Regions from separate parts of the Homo sapiens genome. Here all the other regions are linked to region 1. Evidence: fine-mapped expression QTL. A gene starts in region 1. Each other region holds a variant in brackets. All regions are shown on one strand. Distances are between the middles of the regions. Region 1 holds the start of DLG5 (discs large MAGUK scaffold protein 5). Region 2 overlaps DLG5 (discs large MAGUK scaffold protein 5). Region 3 has its middle 24 kb from the start of DLG5-AS1. Region 4 overlaps DLG5 (discs large MAGUK scaffold protein 5).

The links. PIP is the estimated chance that this variant, and not a neighbour inherited with it, causes the effect.
Region 2: its variant is the best candidate, but not a certain one, in a credible set for the expression of DLG5 in whole blood (TOPMed, PIP 0.79).
Region 3: its variant is the best candidate, but not a certain one, in a credible set for the expression of DLG5 in whole blood (TOPMed, PIP 0.53).
Region 4: its variant is the best candidate, but not a certain one, in a credible set for the expression of DLG5 in monocytes (Schmiedel 2018, PIP 0.80).

What each region holds. Positions count from the first base shown.
Region 1 is chr10:77,923,666-77,928,975 of GRCh38, forward strand. DLG5 (discs large MAGUK scaffold protein 5) reads right to left here and starts at 3,090. Exons shown (of 32, transcript NM_004747.4): 1 at 2,552-3,090. The coding sequence starts at 2,855. DLG5-AS1 (DLG5 antisense RNA 1) reads left to right here and starts at 3,147. Exons shown (of 1, transcript NR_024585.1): 1 at 3,147-5,310. RefSeq lists a silencer at 4,783-4,959.
Region 2 is chr10:77,867,633-77,872,942 of GRCh38, forward strand. DLG5 (discs large MAGUK scaffold protein 5) reads right to left here. Exons shown (of 32, transcript NM_004747.4): 2 at 1,497-1,565. Among named protein-coding and RNA genes, the nearest start is that of DLG5, 56 kb to the right of the region's middle. RefSeq lists an enhancer at 1-822. The variant A/G (reference allele first, on the strand shown) is at 2,746.
Region 3 is chr10:77,948,210-77,953,519 of GRCh38, forward strand. It overlaps the pseudogene H2AZP5. Among named protein-coding and RNA genes, the nearest start is that of DLG5-AS1, 24 kb to the left of the region's middle. RefSeq lists enhancers at 8-545, 546-1,083, 1,084-1,621 and a silencer at 962-1,256. The variant C/T (reference allele first, on the strand shown) is at 2,527.
Region 4 is chr10:77,791,230-77,796,539 of GRCh38, forward strand. DLG5 (discs large MAGUK scaffold protein 5) reads right to left here. Exons shown (of 32, transcript NM_004747.4): 28 at 5,222-5,310; 29 at 4,832-4,959; 30 at 3,620-3,729; 31 at 2,779-2,888; 32 at 1-1,314. The coding sequence ends at 1,211. Among named protein-coding and RNA genes, the nearest start is that of DLG5, 130 kb to the right of the region's middle. The variant GT/G (reference allele first, on the strand shown) is at 2,326.

The DNA of each region.
Region 1 (5,310 bases):
GAGGATGGCTTGAGACCAGGAGGCGGAGGCTGCAGTGAGCCGAGATTGTGCCACTGCACTCCAGCCTGGGTGACACAGTGAGACCCTGTCTCAAAAAAACAAAAGCCCCCAACACGCCACTGTTTGCTGACACACCATGTCACCCTCTTCCCCAGGGGCTTCAGGTGGCATCTTGCCATACCAAATGCTGTCCTAACTTTTTTCTTTCTTTTTTTTTGAGAAGGAGTCTTGCTCTGTCACCTAGGCTGGAATCCAAGGGCACCATGTCAACTCACTGTAACCTCCACTTCCCAGATTCAAGTGATTCTCCTGCCTCAGCCTCCCAAGTAGCTGGGACTACAGGCGCCCACAACCACGCCCAGTTAATTTTTGTATTTTTATTAGAGACGGGGTTTCACCATGTTGGCCAGGCTGGTCTCGAACTCCTGGCCTTAAGAGATCTGCCCGCCTCGGCCTCCCAAAGTGCTGGGATTACAGGCATGAGCCACCACACCCAACCAGCGTTTTTCTAATGCATTAAGTAAAATGAACTTAACTTCTCCTTGAAAAGTATTTTTCTAAGGATTTCATGACCCTCTCCAAAGTCACATAACTCTGCATTGTGGTAAAACTGGGGTCTGAAATCAATGCCCTAGGGGATAAAATCCAAACCCTAATCTCTGCCTTCCTTAGAGGTCAAGACTAGCTCCTAGAACTTCAGCCCCATGAGGCCCCACATTCTCCACCAGACACGGAAAGGGTGAGACCTAATTAATGGCAATTGATCCATCAATCAATTTTCAGAGATTAAGGCGAGCGTTGATTCACATGCTTCCCAACGCAGACTTCCAGTCTGTACTAAGTTCTGTGCTTTACGAAAGACTTTCAGAAACAGATCTTAACTTCTTCATTCAGAGATAGATTAGATAGATACATAGATACAATTAAAAAGAAAAAAATTACTTTGTTGAGATCCCCTCTGTCCTTATCCTCATGGCCACATCTGACAGTCCCTTCCTAGCATCTCCCAAAGCACTATCCCAGGAAAGGACTAGGTTTGCCCAGTAACTCTGACATGACCACAACTGGGGGGAAAGAATGCAGGTTTGAGGGACAGAGATGCAAGTCAGAAGCTCAAAGTGGAGACGGGAGGGCCACCAATGAAATGACCTGCTGTGTGGCCAGCAATTTAGTCTCTCTGTCAGTTTCCTGCAGCTACAAAAATTGAGGTTAAGATGGCCAACGTAAGAGAGCTGTTACCAGGAATGCCTTATAAAATCATTCCCTTAATAAGTGGGGCTTTTAACAGCCAAATAAATGGGTCCCATCAGCCTTTGACCTTCAGGTTGCTAAGGGCAGTTTCTCAGCCCTCTCGGTTCACTTGTTTTTCTTTTATACATATATCCTTATTTATTTTTACTGTACCTATCGATTCACTGTTAAAACAGGGACAAGACCTAGAAAGATGGCACTTTGTTTCCTGGCTCTGAACAAGTTAAATCAAACAATAGGTTATAATTCAAAATTCCTGGTGCCCAATACTTTCTGAGCATTTTAACCACTCCAAGCCAGAGTTTTCTCTCTGGCAAAGAATAACAGAAAGCTCACATAGTGGCAACGACAACTGAACGTGATAAAGCAGAGCGCCTGCCACAACAGTAGATGCCCAATAAATGCTAGTTCTCCTCCTCCCTCAGTGCCATGTCTTCTTCCTCCAGCTGCCTTGTCTAAAAAGGCTGGCTTCCACACTCCACGGCCAGGCCAGGACAAGCCTACCACTTGTCAGAAACTCCCGCCAGTATCCGTTCCTGCACCCAGACACACACTTACAAATCAGTCATCCCCAAGACCAAAGACACAGGGGTTCCAAAAGGCACCCTCAAGGGAACCAGTCACCAGCCTTCCTCGTTAAGCAGCTCTGTGCTCTCAGGGAGAGAACTTAGCCCCAGCAGCCACTACTAGGATTTTCCCATGGTGCAATGCAACTTCCCCAACTTTTCCGGGCCCAGTTTCCAAAGAAACCCAGGCAGGCGTTGTGCACAATCAGCCACCAGTCTGGGAGAGACTGGGCTCTGAGCAGAGAAAAAGGAGCTGGGACAGCCAGAAAATGAAAAAGCAGTTGTGGCCCCGGCACAGGATGGCAGCGACCAAAACTTAAGAGTAGGGGTCCTGGCCCAAGTCCCATTCTTCTGGACGGTACCCTTGGTTAAAGGCTAGCACAGGGTGCCAAAGCTAGCGGACGGTGAGGAGCCTCAGAAAAGGGACTGATGGACATCCTCCGAGGTACCCCCTACCCGCTACTGGACCTGGTGGCCCCCGGGGACCCTGTCGTCGAGGCACCTGAGAGTGAAGGCCTTCAGCGGGGGGCATTGTTCACAGCGAACGGCGGGACTGGGGGAGGCGGCGGGACTTCGGGATCCGCGCACCGCCGCCTCCCCAACTGGGCCAGAGGAGCGAGTCCACCGAGGCCATCGCCAGGTGGAGCGGCGGCCCCGGCGAGGTACCCTCGGCCAGCAGGAGGGAGAAGCGGAGGGCGCGTCCCAGAGGCGGGGGCCAAGGGTCTGCCACTCACCCGCGCCTTCGGCGGGCTGCGGCGGCCCGACGACGCCGTTCAGGTAGAGAATGGGCAGCAGGTGAGGCTGCGTCTTCTCCAGCGCCGCCCGCAGGTCCTGGAAGTGGTCCCGCTCCTTGGCCAAGAGCAGCTTGAGCAGCAGCTCCGCCTTGGCGCCTCCCGCCTCCTCGTCCAGCTGCCGCCGCTCGCCGGGACTGAGCGCTCCCGCGGCCTCGAGCAGCCCGAGCACGGCTTCCACCTCCGTCATGGCCTGGGCCAGGCTCTGCTGACACTGGGCGAGCAGCTCCCGGCGCTGGGGCTCCATGGTGGCGGGCCGCGCCGCCCCGCCCCGCCGGACGCCTCCCGGGCCCCCCGAGGCCGGCGGGCGGGCAGGCGAGCACCTCGGCAGCAGCCCTAGGGCGCCGGGAGCCGTGAGGCGGCGGGAGCCATGGGCCGGGGCCTGGGCGGGCTGGGGGCCCGGGGCGGCGGGCGGCGCTCAGCAGCGGCCGCCTCCCGGGCTCCGGAGCGCAGCCATGTTGGCTGCCGCGGCGGCGGGACTGGAAGAGGAGGAGGAGGAGACGGAGGAGGAGAAGGAGGAGGCGGAGGTGGGGACGGCGGCCGGGGCGCGCCCCGAGGCCGGGCTCCAGCCGGGCATGCTCCCCCTCCCCCTCAGCCTCCGCGCGCGCCGCCCGCCCCGCGAGAAAACTCGCCCCGAAAGCCGGGCCGCGCGCCGCCCCCAGAGCAAGACTACAACTCCCGGGAGAAAGTCGCCTGGGCCGTGTTTCCCAGGCTCCCGACAGCTCCGGCCCGGCTCGGAGGCCGCCTCGGCCCCCGTGCACCCCGGCCCGGCTCACCGGGGCCCCGCGGCCGCCACCCGCTCCCCCGTGGCCACAGCCCCGCCGCCGCCGGCCCGTCCCTCCTCTCTCCCCTCCCCAGGCCGTCCCTCCGGGAGGCGGCAGCAGGGGAGGAGGGGACGGGCGGAGGGGAGGGGTCCCCGGCCCGCCCGCTAGGCGGGGACGCGGCGCCGGCTGGTTCCCGGTCCCCCGAGGCCCAGGCGCAGCCGGGGGTGGGGGACACGGAGTCAGGCCTGGCACGCGGCCAGCCCACAAGCTGCTGGAGACCCCCTCATACAAATCTTGCCCCCAGTCCAGAGGGTCCTAATCTGAGAACTCCAAAATACAGCCTGGAGACAAATGGTGGGGAGGGTTTCCCCTAAATTTGGACATCTCCAGATTAAGACCTCCGCCGAATCCGTGAGGCTTTCCCTCTCCAAGGAGCTCCTAAGAGAATTTCCCAGTAAAATCGCCTCAACTGCGGTAAATAGGCTGTTCCCCGCGCCAGCATTTGAGAAGAGCTGGTCCCCAGAGTGTAAAGGAGTTAGGATGTTGGCAGGAGGAAGGATGTGTCGCCGGATGAGGAAAAGAAAGGTGGGTGTCTGCGGTGCAGTCCTTGGTCTTTCTGGCAAGTGAGGCGCTCTCCCCCTAAATGTCTCAGAGGGAGACAAATCAGCGGACTACCTTGCTTCCTTTGATGACTTGGAAAGGATCTGCAGTCCCCCTTAAAGCCCAAGAATGTCTTCTCTTCCACGACAGCCGTTTGTGGACACATACTGCTTACCTCCCTGACTGCAGGACAAGGTCCTTCAAAGCTGGAACTCTGACTGCGCTCAGTGATCCCGCAGTGCTCCTCTGTAGAGTGGGAACCCAGGTCCATTTCAAATATCTACGTTGGAATGAGTGGATCTCGCTGGGGGTGAGAGGCACTTTGTCTACCCACACTGCCAGTCCCAGCCACATGCCTCCTCCCTTCCCTCAAAAAGCAGTGTCTTCTTAGTCTGCTTCTTCAAGGGGAGAAGTCGTTTTTATTTATGGAAACGAACTCACTATATGGTAGAAAGAACAAGAGTATCAGAATTTGCACTTTGGACTTGGACTCCCCTCTAAGCAGCTGCACAAGGTGGAACAAACCAATAATCCTTGCTGATCTGTTTTGTCCTTAGGAAAAATGGTGGAGGGAGAATATTAGATCAGGGGTTCTTAGCCTTGGCTTCATGAATAAGCTCAAGGATGTCAATGAAGCTTTTGACATGATCTCAACTTTTTTGTGAACATTTATATATTTTTCTGGAATGGGGTCCATAGAGTTACAAGTTCTTTAAGACCTCCAGATGGACCCCAATATGGCAGAAATGAACTATTTAAAGATACCTGCCTGCTCCCGTAGTCTGACCCTCTATGGCTAAGCAAGGTTTTAGAGGAGTGGAAGGCTGGCCATTGCACAGTATCAGGGTTCCAGACAGGCTCCCTGGCTCTTCCCTCCCAGTCCTGCTCCTGAGATATAGTTCTTTCTGGCCGCCACTTCCCTTAGGGCAACCCCAGAGCTTAAATCATCTGCAAGGCAGTCACCTTTCAGGCACCTTTCATCCGGCACCTGTGTTCTTAGCTGGATTAACTAGAAAGCTAGTTGGAGGAAGGAAGGTGAAAGTGGAGGAAGGGGAAAAGAGGAAAAGTTGGAGACGAATCTGGCTTATGGTTAGAAGCATATTTTTTGGCCAGGCAAAGTGGCTCACGCCTGTAATCCCAGCACTTTGGGAGGCTGAGGTAGGCGGATTGCCTGAGCTCAGGAGTTGGAGACCAGCCTGGCCAACGTGGTAAAACCCCGTCTCTAACAAAAATACAAAAATTTAGCCAGGCATGATGGTGCAAGCCTGTAATCCCAGCTGTTCAGGAGGCTGAGGCATGAGAATTGCTTGAACCCAGGAGGTGGAGGTTGCAGTGAGC
Region 2 (5,310 bases), 56 kb before region 1:
TGAGGGTTATGGGAGGAACTGTGTTTTTATGGGTGGAGTTGTGGCCCCCCAAAAGATGCTAAAGTCCCAATCCAGTAAATGTGAATGTGAACCTTATTTGGAAAGGTCAAAGCGTTATCTTTCCGAGGCGCATTTGCATTCTAAAAGGGGAGTCCCGAGAGGGACACTGCTCAGCCCACAGCAGTTATTGCTGATGGTGAAATAGTCTTTACAGATGATCAATTTAAGATGAGGTCTTGCTGCCGTAAGGCAGGCTCCTAGGCCAATCTGACCAGTGTCCTTATTAAAAGGGGAAATTTGGAGACAGACACACATGGACGGAGAACATCATGTGAACACAAAGGCAGAGATCAGTGTGATGTCGGCAAACCAAGGAGCACCAAGGATTACCAGCAAGCCACCAGAAGCGAGGAGAGAGGCCCGGGACAGATCTCTCCCTAGCGCCTTCAGCCTGCGTGGCCTCACTGACACTTTGATCTTGGGCTTCTGTCCTCCAGAACTGTGAGACAATCAATTTCTGCTGTGTAAGCCACCTGGTCTGCGGCACTTTGTTATAGCAGCCCTAGAAAACTAAGATGGAACTCGCCGGCTGGTCACTGTCTTCCCTCTTATCACACTACCTTCCCTTACTGCAGCTACTTATTTAACTGTTTCCCACCAAAAGACCCTAACATCCAGGAGTGTGGGGCCCACATCTGCCTAATTCGCCACTACGGCCCAAGCCCACCTCTGGCACACTGGAGGTGTTCAAGATGTGAGCTGACATATGAAAGAGCTGTCCTGACTAGTTCTAGAATCTCAGGCATGTGACTCCCCCTCCCAGAATGTCAATTTCCCCATCTCTCTGCAGAGGGAAAAGAAAATAATTGGAGTAGATGACCTCTGTGAGTCCTTCGGGCTCAAAAGATGGCCGGGACTCACCACTGAAGGTGTCTGCATCCATCATGGTCAGATCAGGCCATGAGAAACCCCACTAGAGGTGCTAAACAGAGGGAATGGGTCACAGAGGTGTGGGAAGCCTGAGAAACCACTGCGGCCTTCCTGCTGGACTTCAGAGAAGGGCTGGCCTCATTTTATGGGCTTTCTGAAACCCATATTCAGAGAAACACACCCAATTCAGCATGGACTGGCAATGCCTATCCCCAAGGAAACTCCAAAAGGGGTGAGTCTCCTGGGCAGTGGTCACTGAGTTACTACAAGGCCTTTGGGGTTGGGGTGGGGATGGTGGGTCAACAGGCTCCCCTAGAAGCCCTGTGCCCTGACAAAGTAAACAATGGCAAAACATGTGCTTCCCAGCACTCACCTCCCCACCTCCTTCTAACATCAGAACTGGGTTTCTGATGATGGGAGAAAATGTAAATGAAATCAACGGAAGGATGATCCTGTGAGTAATCTGACAAGGGAGAACCAGCTTCCTCTCCCATGAACCCCAGCTGCCTTGGCTTTCACCCAGACCCCTGGCCCACCCGGTGTCCTCCCCAGACAGTGGTACTCACCCACACTGCTGAGGGAGCTGCTGCTTTCTGAGTCTGAGGGCATGGTGGACAGGACGCTGTAGGTAGAACCTGGGGAAAGAGGGGAGACCATGTTACTAACCCCAAGGGGTCACTCGTCTTCACCCCAAGCCAGCTGATCATCAGTCAATGCCAGGCCATGAGAGCTACATGCACCAGGCACTAGAAATCCACATCCACGGGCCAAGCAGAGGAGGCGCGCTCAGCAGATCTGGACTTCGGTGTTTCTGCCAGGCCTCCCACCTCACTTTATCGGCCCCTCCTGCTCTGGGCAGGCGGGCAGAGGGGAACTTGGAGTCAGTCAGCTGGCTTCTTGTTGGGACATCTGGGGAAAGGCTTAGCAAGGGAGTGACATGCCCCAGGTAAACATGGGGTGTGGGGGTTTCCTCCACATCTCTAGCAATATGATTCTGGCTTCCATGCAGAGGGTAACAGAGCAGAAATTAAAGAACAACTGAACTATCTGTTCTTTCTCTGACTGTTCTGCTCTTTAGGTTCTAACTGTATTCAAGCTCAGTTCTTAATAATTTACTTAGTATCTGCCCCCTTATTAAAAGTTACTCCTAAAATGATGAGCAATTGTACCATCACCAAAGCCAGAGGGTAGCACTTTTTTTTGTCCACACTTAATGTTAATTCCTGGTTGTGGACACACAACCACTGTGGTTTGGTTTGAATTCAAATATCTTCAAAACCAGATGTTACCCTCCCAGCACCGGGAAGCCCAGTTTCTGAACCTAGCTCTATGTAGGTGCCCATAGCTGGGTCGTGCTGAGCAAGTAGCTTTTGTTTTCTGGAACTCTGTTTCCTGGTCTGCAAAATGAAGGAGTTCAACCAGATGGCTTATAAGGTCCCTACCCCATCCCCCATCCCCCATCCCCCATCCCATTTCAGCAATTTCCATGATTAATGGAAACAGAAGGTACACTTTGCTCATCAAGACTATGGATGACATAAAATTAAAAGGGAGGGCAAACTGACTCAGAGACTAAATTGGGAGTGGACAAAGCATAACACACAGAGATGGCAGGTCAGATAAAACAAGGACAAATCCAGTGTTTTGTTCTTGGAGCCAAAAGAACTATACAATGAAGAGCGGTATGTACCAGGCCAAGTGGGTGAGCTGGAGATGGAATTTTTGCAATAAGGGCTTTGAACAAGCCTTAGGGCTCTGGCATCAGAAAGCTGCCAAGAACTAATGAGATCCTGGGCTCCACAACAAGAAATGTGG[A/G]GGACCACATTTAAGGAGCTCCCAGCAGGGCACGGTGGCTCACACCTATAATCCCAGTGCTTTGGGAGGCCAAGGTGGGCAGATTGCTTCAGCTCAGGAGTTTGAGACCAGCCTGGGCAACATAGTGAAACTCCATCTCTATAAAAAATACAAAAAATTAGCTGGGCGTGGTGGCACGCACCTGTAATCCCAGCTACCTGGGAGTCTGAGGTGGGAGGATCACCTAAGCCCAGGGAAGTCAAGGCTGCAGTGAGCCATGATCATGCCACTGCACTTCAGCCTGGGCAACAAAGTGAGATCCTGTCTCAGAAAAAAAAAACAAAAAACACTCTTCCACTGCAATTCTTGACTAGCCACCCTACACGCATCTTTGGACGGGAAAGAGGAGAAATGAAGAAATGGGGGTAAATGGGGGAGCGGGGCAGGGGAGGGAGATGCACTGTAGGTGGGAGGCCCCTGGGGGACAGGAGAGACCTTGAGGGGAAAGCAGGGAGACTTTGCTGGGGAGGTGAGGACCATGCAGGAGGGCAGAGAGATAGACTGCAGGCAGGCGAGCTAGCAGGCGTGTCCATCAGAAAAAGAGATGAAGGGGGAGAGAAAAAAGAGAAAGCAAGCAAAAAGCAACTTTGGTAATGGCAAGCACTAGGACAGGCGTGACCGGCAATGACCAGTAGCCTCATTATCACATTTTCAGAGACTCTGAAGAATCTGAAGGCGTTGAGCATGGGCTGAAGAGAATGACTGGGGAATGGGTAGGTGTCTTGTCTCTCAATACGACTGTCAGAAGGGATTAGATTTGTTCTTGATGGCCTCCAGCAGCCAAACCAGGAGCAGCGGGTGGATGCTGGAGAAAGCTGCATCTCTAAACAGGTCTGGATGGCCACGGTCAGCACTGCCAGGTATGAAAAGCCTGAGGGTGAGGGGGTGAGACAGTGAGGGAGGCCCAGCACTCAGTGGCATGGATGTCATGGGGAAGTCTGTGCATCTGAAGGGAGATGAAACCAGAAAACCCAGTTCAGCCTTAAAATTCTATGATCCTGCTAATAATGAATAACCCATGCTCCACCTCCCATATCTGAAGTCCAACCCACACTATTAGTTTTGCTGTACATTCAATATCTCTGCATTTTTGTCTCAACAAAAACAATAAGCATCACACTTTTTTTTTTTTTTTTTTTTTTTTGAGACAGAGTCTTGCACTGTCGCCTGGGCTGGAGTGCAATGGCGCGATCTCGGCTCACTGCAACCTCCACCTCCTGGGTTCAAGCGATTCTCCTGCCCCAGCCTCCTGAGTAGCTGGGATTACAGGTGCCCACCACCATGCCTGCCTAATTTTTTCTATTTTTAGTAGAGACAGGGTTTTGCTATGTTGGCCAGGCTGGTCTTGAACTCCTGACCTCGGGATCCACCAGGCCTCAGCCTCCCAAAGTGCTAGGATTACAGGCATGAGCCACCATGTCTGGCCTGCATCACATGTTTTTTTAACCCATCTCTCTTTCTATATCATACACATTACATGTTGCTTCAATATCTGTGAAATAAAGTCAAATGCAATTCGGGCAATCCATTGATATCTTCAAAGAACAAGAACCCAACACAATGCCTATTTTCTAAACTCAACTACCATTTTTTAAATAGTATTTTTTCTTTATGGGGGCAAGGAAGGCTAGCCACTGACATGTTGGTGGATTGTTTTTGGAAGACGTCTACTCAGGAAAGCAGGCACAAATAAATTTCCCCACTCTCACCTCCAGAAATCTCTATGCTCAACCCATCCCAGCTTACGACACTGGCAGCCTGCGCTCCAGATGCCTCTGCTGGAACGCTCCCCTCTTTCTTACTCTTGGCATCAGCAGTGCCCCTTCTTCCAGTAAACTGCCCCTCCTCTTCAAATCGTCTCTCTCCTCCCCTGTGGCAAGTTTCCACTGTTAATTAAGCTTGGCAGATGCCCTTCCCTCTCTCCGCCCACCTACCTCCCTGGCTGGGGGAGTCCACAGGCCAAGCGACACGTTCTGTTCCTCTTCCCTGTCCCTGCAGTCCTGACTGGCCTCTGGGGCCTAACCAGGGCAGCGTGACATCTTTGTGTGCATCTCTGGGCATCACTCCCACCCCCAACCCAGGGAGCTGGCAGGGCTCCTAGGAGCTGGTGGGGGGAGTGGTTAAAATTGGACAGGACCCAGTTTTTACAATGTTCCCAGAGCCTTGGACGTCATTAAGGGGGAAAAAAGGCCCAAAGACGACATTGTCTCGGTCATGCTTTGTCTCTGCGGTTATTGTTGTCCTAAAGGCCTGTGTGGTCAGGACAGTCAGGAAAAGGCAAAAGAAGCCACTGTCCCCCAAAGTCACACGGTGTCCTTTCAAGGCCGGTTGCTTCCATGGGGCGGAGGGGCAGGTGTCGGCGTCATCTACCTCTGGGGTTTCGCCATCAAATTTGGAGTCAAATTTGGTGCTCCTCATCTTCTGCCATGGCCCAATCCAGGAGGAGACAATTTCCCCAGGTTCTCCTGAAGGCACCTCCACCCAACCTGCCCTGAAACCTAGGATGGGCTGCTGTGGAAGGAGAAA
Region 3 (5,310 bases), 25 kb after region 1:
AGACAGAGTCTTGCTCTGTTGCCCAGGCTGGAGTGCAGTACAGTGGCATGATCATAGCTTACTGCAGGATTGAACTCCTGGGCTCAAGGATCTTACTATCTCAGCCTCCCCAGTAGCTGGGACTATAGGCATGTGTGACCATGCCTGGCTAATTTTTTAATTTTATGTAGAGACAGGTTCTGGCTATGTTGTCCAGGCTGGTCTCCAACTCCTGGCCTCAAATGACCCACCCGGTTTGGTCTCCCACAGTGCTGAGATTACAGATGTGAGCCACTGTGCCCAGTCTATTTTTAAATATATTCTTAAATTTTTCATTGTAACCATCTTTTTTTTTTTTTTTTTTTTTTTGAGACAGGGCCTCATTTTGTCCCGCAGGCTGGAATGCAGTGGCACAATCTTGGCTCACTACAGCCTCTACCTCCCGATTCAAGCAACCCTCCTGCCTCAGCACCCCAAAGTAGCTGGGACTACAGGTGCATGGCACCACGCCTGCCTAATTTTAAATGTCTTTTTTGTAGAGGCGGGGTTTAGCTGTGTCGCCCAGGCTGGTCTTGAACTCCTGAGCTCAAGCGATCCTCCCGCCTTGGCTTCCCAAAGTGCTGGGATTACAGGCATGAGCCACCGCGCCCAGCCAGATAGTAGCCATCTTAATGGAGTGAGATGGCTTACTTTTAAACATTATTTCTAAACTGAACCCAGACCCTGGCATATTAGAGGTGGTTACACAGTGAACGCATTTGACGAACAGTCAAGGTAATTTTGTTTTCCAGGGTTTGCTCCATGAATAAACAATCTCTGAGAGGCTAGTATCTTGTCCAAGGTCAAGAGCCTGAATTTGAATTGTCTGACTGAAAGGCAGCATGTTCTCTACTAGTCACCTCTCTACCTGGTTCCACCCTATGCAAGGCAAACAAACGCAGAAGAAAGAAACCCATTGCCGTGCAAAATCCAGTGATTCCAAACCCAACCAGCCCACCAGGGATGTTCTGGGAGTCCGAGCTGGGGACAGGAGCACAGCCAGCCCTAGCCAGCCCTCCCCCCACCACACTCAGTGCCTGGCGGGGCAGAGCGAGTCACATTTCAGCCTCACTCACAGGCCAGCTTGAAATTCGGCCCAGCCGCCACTGCCTCCTGAGAACTCCTCCGGATGCCTGCAGGCTTATGCGGGGCTGAGTCACTTCCTCACCTTAATTCTCCCCTAATACCTTCCCTTTCTCTGCTGCTTTACTCCTGGCACCACTGTCTGGGTGTGGAATGTCTGGGGAAGCTGTGCAGGTGGGTTGGCTGAGCTGTCTGCCCAGATACCACAAACATGGCTGGGGAGAGAGGATGCAGGGGTAAAAGTAAAGCCAGATTTGTCTGCTGGCTCTTAAGCGCATCCTAATCCCCTCAGTCAGTTTGATCTTCGCAAACATGAGCACAGGTCAATATCTCTAAGCTTGGGTCCTGAGGGGCTGGTGGAGGATGGAGCAGAGGATGGATGAAGAGGAACAGGAAGTGAGGGGAGAGTGATGGCTGCTTTGGCTTTTAGAAACTTCCATCCCACATTACTTTCCCTAGGGAAGCTCCCACCTCCCATCCCTGGGAGAACAGACTGCATCCTGGAAGGTCAAGTTCCAGGTCATGTTAAATATGATGGTTTCCTGGATGAGTCTAAGGACATATCATTAATATCTTCAGCCTATTTCCAGAAGTCCTGCTGTTCCTCTTACCTACATGTATGCTGTTCTTCCCTGTGTACAACTTAACTTTCCTTTTCAGGTTTCGGATGCTTTGTCTGTACATTGCTTTGTGTGTTTGCCTGCCTCAGCTTGTACTTTCGGAGATAGAAATTGGGTCAAAGTTTTAATTTTTATTTAAGTTATTCATTTATATAGTTTAAAAAGTCAAGGGATGGTGCAAGATTTATGAAAAAGAGCCCTCTCCCTTCCCCTTAGCAGAGATAATCATCTTCACCTTTTTTCTTTTTTTTTTTTTTTTGAGACAGAGTGTCGCTCCATTGCCCAGGCTGGAGTGCAGCGACGTGATCTCGGCTCACTGCGACCTCCACCTCCCGGATTCAAGAGATTCTCCTCCTGCCTCAGCCTCCCGAGTAGCTGGGACTACAGGCGTATGCCACCATACCTGGCTAATTTTTGTATTTTTAGTAGAGATGGGGTTTCTCCATGTTGGCCAGGCTGGTCTTGAACTCCTGACCTCAAGTGATCTGCCCGCCTCGGCCTCCCAAAGTGCTGGGATTACAGGTGTGAGCCAGCATTCCTGGCCATCTTCAATTTTTATAGCTCATTCTTTTGGCATTTGTCTCCATTTCCCTCAATAATATTATTTTATTACTACGTCATGATTTTTCAGTTTTAGGCACTATTTATTGTCTTCCATACTTGAACAACCCATGCACCCTTCCTGGCCTCCATCTTTCCACTACAGTCATACAATAATTTGGTTAGAGCAATAGCCAGTTTTTACATTAATACCACTATGTAAAGACTATTACCATGTGATGGACTATGCACAATTTTTTATTTT[C/T]CCTGGAGCTAATAATTATCTCCGCCCCCACCCCAATTCATTTACTTAGTTTCCTATGTGTTTAATGCCAAGCTCTTTCAGTTGTTATAATCTTCCCTTAATACTTTCAGATGATATTCTACCAATTTTATTTTCTTGAAGAAATCTCTCTTAGACATGGCTGGGCACGGTGGCTCATGCCTGTAATCCCAGCACTTTGGGAGGACAACATGGGTGGATCGCCTGAGGTCAGGAGTTTGAGACCAGCCTGGCCAGCATGGTAAAACCCCATCTCTACTAAAAACACAAAAAATTATCTGGGCGTGGTGGCAGGTGCCTGTAATCCCAGCTACTCGGGAGGCTGAGGCAGGAGAAGTGCTTGAATCGGGGAGGCAGAGTTTGCAGTGAGCCGAGATCGCACCATTACACTCCAGCATGGGTGACAAGAGCAAAACTGCATCTCAAAAAAAAGAAAAGAAGAAATCTCTCCTAGACATTTCTGACCTTATCTGGTCTAGGCTGGTTGTCCTATAGGACTGTTGCATTGTCGTCATCTTGCAATCTCTTTTTACCAACATCCTGGGGGATTCTCTTTATCTATCACATGTCAGATTCCTGTTTCCCCTTGTCTTTTTCTTGGTTTACTACCTTATCATCCAGGAGCCTCCTGAGTATATAAACATTTTTTTCTGAACCTTAAATGACTCAAATGTCTTTTTCTATCTTCAACCTTGATTGATAGTTTGGTTCTGTAGTCCCAGCTACTCGGGAGGCTGAGGCAGGAGAATGGCGTGAACCAGGTGGGCAGAGCTTGCAGTGAGCCGAGATTGCGCCACTGCACTCCAACCTGGGCGACAGAGCAAGACTCCATCTCAAAAAAAAAAAAAAAAAAAAAAAAAAAAGATAGTTTGGTTGGGTATAAAATTTTAAGTTGAATGGCTGGGTTCCATGGCTCACACCTGTAATCCCAGCCCTTTGGGAGTACGAGGTGGGTGGATCACTTAAGGTCAGGAGTTTGAGACTTGGTGAAACCCTGTCTCTACTAAAAATACAAAAAATTAGCCAGGTCTGGTGGCTCATACCTATAATCCCAGCTACATGGGAGACTGAGGCAGGAGAATTGCTTGAAGTCAGAAGATGGAGGTTGCAGTGAGCTGAGATCGCGCCACTACACTCCAGCCTGGGCAACAGAGTGAGACTTTGTCTCAAAAATAAAAAAAAAAAAAGAATTATGTTGGAGATGATTTTCCTTTGGAAGTTTGAAAGCATTGCTTATCTTCTAACTTCCAGTGCATCTATTGAGACATTCAAGGCACTCTAATGCCTGACCTCCTCCCCTTTCCCTTTGGAAACTTGCAGGATCTTCTCTTTGTCTTCAGTGTTCTGAATTATAATGATTTGTCTTGATGTTGGTCTCTTTTCATCCATTGGGCCAAGAAATCTTGGGCCCTTTTAAACTGGAAATATATGTCTCCGTTTTTGAAAATTTTCTTTGGGTATTTTATTTTATTTTATTTTATTGAGACAGAGTCTTGCTCTGTCGCCCAGGCTGGAGTGCAGTGGTGCAATCTCGGCTTACTGCAACCTCCGCCTCCCAGGTTCAAGCGATTCTCCTGCCTCAGCCTCCTGAGTAGCTGGGATTACAGGTGCCTGTCACCACACCCGGATAATTTTTTGTATTTTTAGTACAGATGAAGTTTCACTATGTTGGCCAGGCTGGTCTCAAACTCCTGACCTTGTGATCCACCCGCCTTGGCCTCCCAAACTGCTGGAATTACAGGTGTGAGCCACTGTGCCCAGCCCAGGTGTTTTTTTAATCATTTCCTCCATTCCTTTTTCTCTGTTGTTTTTTGTTTATTTTTGTTTATTTTTTTAATGGAATTCCTATTATTCAGGAAGTGGAATTCCTGTATTAGGCCTCTAATTTTCTTATCTATTCTCTCCTATTTTCTGTGACTATGTTTTTGTAAGATTTCCTCAATTTTATATTCCAATCCTTCTACTGAGTTTTTGATTTCTCACATTATATTTTTAAGTTTAAAGAGCTCCTTTTTTGTCCTTTGAATGTTCCCCTAAACAAAAAAAAACAATAGTGGCCAGGCATGGTGGCTCATACCTGTAATCCCAGCACTTTGGGAGGCTGAGGTAGAGGACTGAGATCAGGAGTTCAAAACCAGCCTGGGCAGCAAAGTGAGACCCCATCTCTACAAAAAAATAAAAAAATTAGCTGAGTGTGATGGCATGTGCCTGTAGCCCCAGCTACATGGGAGGCTGAAGCAGGAGGGTTGCTTGATTCCAGGAGGTCAAGGCTGCAGTGAGCCATATTCGCACCACTGTACTCCAGCCTAGGTGACAGAGTGAGACGCTGTCTCAAAAACAAACAAAAACAACCAAAACCCCAACAGTATTGTGTTTTTGTCTCAGGTTTATATATTTGCATATGGAATGTCTATATAAATTATGTTCTTGCTGGGCATAGTGGTTTGCACCTGTAGTGCCAGTTCCTGGGGACGCTGGGGCAGGAAGATCACTTGAGCCCAGGAGTTCTGGGCTGTAGCATGCTATGCCGATCGGGTGCTAAGTTCGGCATCAATATGATGACCTCCCAGGAGCAGAGGACCACCAGGTTGCCCAAGGAGGGGTGAACTGGCCCAGATCAGAAAAGGAGCAGGTTGGCAGTTTAAATTGCATTGCATTGAAGAAATAGGTGGTGGGATCTTGCTGGGTGTTTGATTAGCCCTTTCTCTGTCTTGCTTGTTTGAGCTTCAGCAGAATTCAAAATGACTGGCAATAAGGCTGGGAAGG
Region 4 (5,310 bases), 130 kb before region 1:
TACCCCAACGACACTTACACAGAGCCCAGTACAGTACCTATTATTAACAGGACGCATAGCTTAAGGAGGAACCACATCAAATCTTCAGCCAGACATATCTAGCCTCAGAAGTGCAAAAAAAAAAAAAGCCCCCAAACGAAGACACCCACACTGAGTAGGGTGCATGCCGTGAGTGCTGTAATCAAGATTAAAAAGACCTCAGTTTTTCTTTTTAGACTGTTGATAGTGACAATAACCATTATGCTTCCCCTAAAAGCTCTCAATTCAATGTCTGAAACATGAATGTTTTCATATCAAAAAGAACTGATGTACCTGCCACCCTCTAAAAAGTTTAAGAATTACCCTGCAAACATTGCACTGATGAAGGCTGTCACGACTTACAGAGCCTAAGGAGGACCCAATGGCAGGCATCAGCACAGCTGAACACCACCTGGACCCCACTGCAGCCCTGCCCACGCAGCTCTCACGGAGCAGACACAGTCCTCAAGTAATAAGCACAGATGGAGGAGAAACGAGAGGCTGTGGAAGGCAGGAGAGAAAGGCCGAGAGACGAGTTTGTAAGAATGCCAAAGTCACCTTCCCCATTGTGGGAGGAAAATGCCAAAGGCACTGGTTCTGCTGCCACAGGCAGTCTGAGCACCTGGAGTTGTGACGTCCTTCCAGGAGAGGTGCCACCAAGGAGCAGGAGGTTTGTCAAAGCTCTGGTCCCACCAACAAGAACCTCCCAAAGCAAAGCAGCCCCCATTGAGGTTCCAAGGTCGTTTTGCTGAAGACGGGAACGAAACCAACACCAAAGCGACAGGGGGTTGACAGAGGGGACAGGGGCTGGGCACCGGCAACATGGAGCCGTTCAAGTAAACATAAACCACCAAATACTTAGAAAAGGCTTGTAAACGAGTGATCCGAAAGGTTCTCTTTGCAGCATCTCTGATCAGCTGGCTAAAGAAAGGTGGGTGCTGAACCCGTCTTTAGTGTTATCTGTTTTGTGTTAAAGCACACGTGTGACACGGGCAGAGTGTGTGGGCCTGGGCCTGGATCGCACGCAGCCGTGGCCCTCTGTCTACAAAGGAGGTGCTTCTGGGTCCTGGTTCCGGATCCTTCCCCCGCATGTTCATAGACGGACAGACTTCTACTTTCAGTCGCTAGAAAAGAGCTGAGTCTGGTGTCCCCTCAGGCGGCCAGCTGCAGTCATCCACAGCACAGCATTCTCCTAGAGCGGGCAGGCTGGAATCCACAGGACTTTATTTTGTTCTTGATTGACCATTGCCAAGATCTGAGTGCAAATGCTTGACAGGGCTCCTCCCTGGATGACCCCTGCAAAAGAGCCCCCCAGACACGTCATTCAGCTCAGAGTAAGACCCCAGGTTTGAGGCAAGGCAGTACAGCTTGCACTCTTTCTACTGTGTGGCTGTCTGCTTTGTGCTCCTTGGCACTCTGCTCCATCCCCACCTGACTCTCCTTCACCAGCAAGAAACTGGGAAAGAAAATTGCCCCTCTTGAGTTGATCACTCATATGTAAACTGCCCACCCCACTGCAGTTAACACCCTGGGTTGGGTTTGCAATGGTTGGGGGAATCCCAGGGCATCAGAAGGAAGTTTGGAGGACATGTGGCGGTGGTCTAATCATTAGCAGGATTCTGCAGGAAACGACAAGTTTAAGGAGCCAGATAGCTCATGGCCAAGAGGAGAGTCACAGAAAGATGATGGCGCCAACTTGGGCCAGCCCTGTACTATAGGAGTTTGACAAAGGGGTCTATAGACACCAGGCCAGGGGTACTCCAGTGTGCTCCACATAACAGCACCTGGACACAAACCAAGCCCCTACTGCAACAAGGCATGCTCAGAAATTGACAGTGAGTGTCTAGAAACTGCTATGGAAACAGGACGTCGTAATTTTATGTCTGTTGAATCTAACAAGAAAAAAATAGAGCTTACCTTTTGCAAGACTTAGAGTTTTAAATTTTCATCTCTCTAGGAATTGTCAGTGTATTTGGCTAAATACCAGTCTGTGAGGAATTGGAAATGAAAGTTCACACACACACCCACACACACACACACACAGAGGCATGCACACCTGCACATACCTACACACACATGGGCACCAAGCCCAGGTCCCTGGACTAGATCATAACACTCTCCACAATGCAGTTAGAATCCCTGTCCCATCCTCTGTGACTGCAAATGCTAATGCCCTGCAAATGACAGACTTTCCCAAAGAGGCTGAAGGCCAGAAGGTAAAATAGAACCAAACTTCACTGAGTTTGTTTCACTTTGAAGACCAGAGATGGTAAGGGGACAGCATTGTTTTTTTTTGTTTTGTTTTTT[GT/G]TTTTTTTTTTTTGGAGGGGGGTTTGCCAAATCCCGCTGCAAAACGGGACTGCCCTGGAGGGTGCTAGGGACAGATGGGCCCCTAGCCTCCGCTGCCCACACTGCTGGCACACTGGGGGCTGCTCCAGTCCCCGCCCTGCCTGGGGACACTGTGGCTGCACTAAACTGCACCTGTGCTATGAGACAGACCCACCACTGCACGTGTGAAAATGAGCAGGCAAGCCAGGCAGGACCTGAGGCCAAGATCGGTGAGCTTAACATTCAACCTGTAAGAATCCTGACGTTGGCCAGGGACTGCAATCTGAACACCTGACTTGTCAGGAACGTGCTCATGACAGCACTTGGGAGCATGTAGAAAGTGCGGGCTTCTCCACGGCTAAGAAAACAGCCTTAGGAAGCCTCTGCTTCCTTCCCTGCTGCCTGCTCCCCACTCCAGGCCCACGCACACCTACCTGTGAAGTACCTGCTGTACTCCTGCTCAAGCTTCTGCGCCGCCTCAAACTGCTCTTTGGAATGCCTCTGAGTCACCTTGTCCCTCAGGTAGATGGGGTCTCTCTGCTCCCTGTGGGGACAGCCAGACACCAGGCTGAGCACTGAGCCTCCTCCAGGCCCTCTTTCCTTCCTCTGTCCAGGCTAACAGGGGCCCCATCAAGGCAGGGGTAGGCTGTGGAGGGAGGCCCCATGTGCTCCCCACATAAAGCACAGCAACAGCCTGTAGGCTGTCGGGGGAGCTCTGGGCAGATGGGGGAAGGAGGGCCCCCCAGCACACACACTTGGAACAGATGCACCAGCAGCCCCTAGCGCAGGTCCCAGAAGCTCAGCAGCACAGAAAGGCAAAATGGAGCAGGGCCTTGGTGAGCCCTTGGCCCAACCAGCACAGGAGCCGAAGCTCAGCGAAGGCAACGGCTCCTGAGTCATGAGCCAGCTCGGGGCTGAGTGGGACTGTGCCCAGGCCACTGGCTCCCCTGCTCCTAAGCAGCACGTAGCGAGGAAAGGGGGCTGGGGCAGGAGAGGGGAGCTGTGCAGACCAAGCTGGCCATGCCCAAAAAACAGTGGCAGCACCCAAATGGCGGAGGGGCGCGAGGAAGGGGCTGCGCTTGGCTGACACCACCTCTGAGTAGGGGACAGGGCCGACAGGGAAGGGTCATTTTCTACACGTACTGCCTATTTCAAGACCCATAGGCCCATCTCTCATTCCTCAACCCCCCACCCCAACACACCCTGCTCCCTACTTGGGCTCCCAGCCCCACCTGTGACAAGGCCCCAGCGGAGCCCAGGGGGCCAGTTACCTACTTGATGTGCTTGGCGCTCTTGTAGTGGATGAAGATGACAATGGGGTAGATGTGCATGTGGTGGAGCCGCTCAATAGCGTGCGGAGCAATGTCCAGGAGGCAGTGTCGGTTCTGGGGTGGGGGGTGCAGAGTGAGCCCTGGCGGGCAGTGAGGGGCAGCCAGCCCCCTGTCCTGCCACCAGCAGGACCCACCTCACCTCACAGGGCTCTACCCACAAACAAGGCAGTAAAGCCACACAGTACACCGTGGGGAAACCATACCCACGAAACTCCCAACAAACCCCACTTGCTGTGAGGAAGGCCAAGGCTGGGAGCCAGGGCTTAGGGGGCTAGGGGTGCTGGCCAGCCCAACTCCAAACTTCCTTTCCCGCCTTTGCCCAGATACAGGGACCTTCTGAAAGCCCTGCCCCACCCTGGCCTCTGAAGCCTTATTTTTGCCAGACTGAGCGAATGAAGAGCCAGAGTCTGGTGAGCCTTTGTGTGGCTGAGACTGAAATATGTCTGTCATGTCTGTCGTCCCAGGCATCCAGGTGGAGTGCAGGCCCGTGCACTCCCGACCCCCAGATGCTCCACTGGGGCATTCCCCCAAGTAGAGTTTGCCCACTTTCAGCAGTGAGAAGCCAACACCTTCATCTAACAGAGAAGGGAAGCAAAGCCCAGCGAGCGAGCTGAGCAGCCTGGAGAAATGGAGCCCAAGGAGCGGCTGTGTCCTTGGACTCCGAGTGTTTGCCCCACCAGCACTCCCCACAGACGTCCCCGCCCTCGTGCTGCCTAGGATGTTCGAAGGCACCGAGAGTCATAGCCCTTTTAGGGGCAGGGACCCTGAGGGAAGGCACGTTCCTGTCCCCAGAAGGTGCATGTGAAATTGTTCGGCACATGCATTTGGGGACCCCGTTCCGGAATGCCCTGCGAGAGGCCTTTCCGCAGAGCTCAATACTCTCATCAGAGATGAGACCCCCCGCACCTGCCAGAGAGGAAGATGGGGCGGCACATACACAGGGGAACTCCTCCATCCCCACCAAGGGATGTGCTTGCAGAAACACACAGCAGCCATGAGGGCAAGCCCAGGCACAGGTGAACTCAGACTAACACAACACGGTGGGCTCACTGAAGGTCTGAGCCGCTGGGGCAGAGGATCACGGACCAGGGGCCTAGACCTGTGCACAGGAGGTCTAATACTGGATGCCTAATCCTCAGACTGAAGCCCTGGGTACCTTTTCTGTGATCTCCTTTATTGACGCCACAGTGGTCACATCGAAATGGCCGCTTCTCCGCTTATAGTCGACAAACAGGCAATCTTTGACACCCCGCTCAATGGCCTGCTGGGAGGCCTTCATCACCTCTGCAATGCACAGACACAGGAATCAGGGAGCCCCAGGCCCTGCTGAGCCCCAGCAGAGGGAGCAGGGGAAGAACACTGCTCAGCAGCTGTCAGTAACCCAGTCCTGCCATGCATGAATCTGACCCATGTCAGCAGGCTTCTGGAACACTGTGAAATCTGCCCCCCGGTACTGCCACCCACTGTGCACAGCTGGGCAGGCAGGTGGACAGGGACATAGAGACAAAGAGCCCAGTAGGCACAGAGGGTGCCCCGTGCCCCTTACCAAGGGGACATCTGCAGAACTTGCCAGGAGCCTCATTCACCAGCATCTCCTTCACCACGTCCAGCAAAGGCCCCAGAATCAGGACAGGC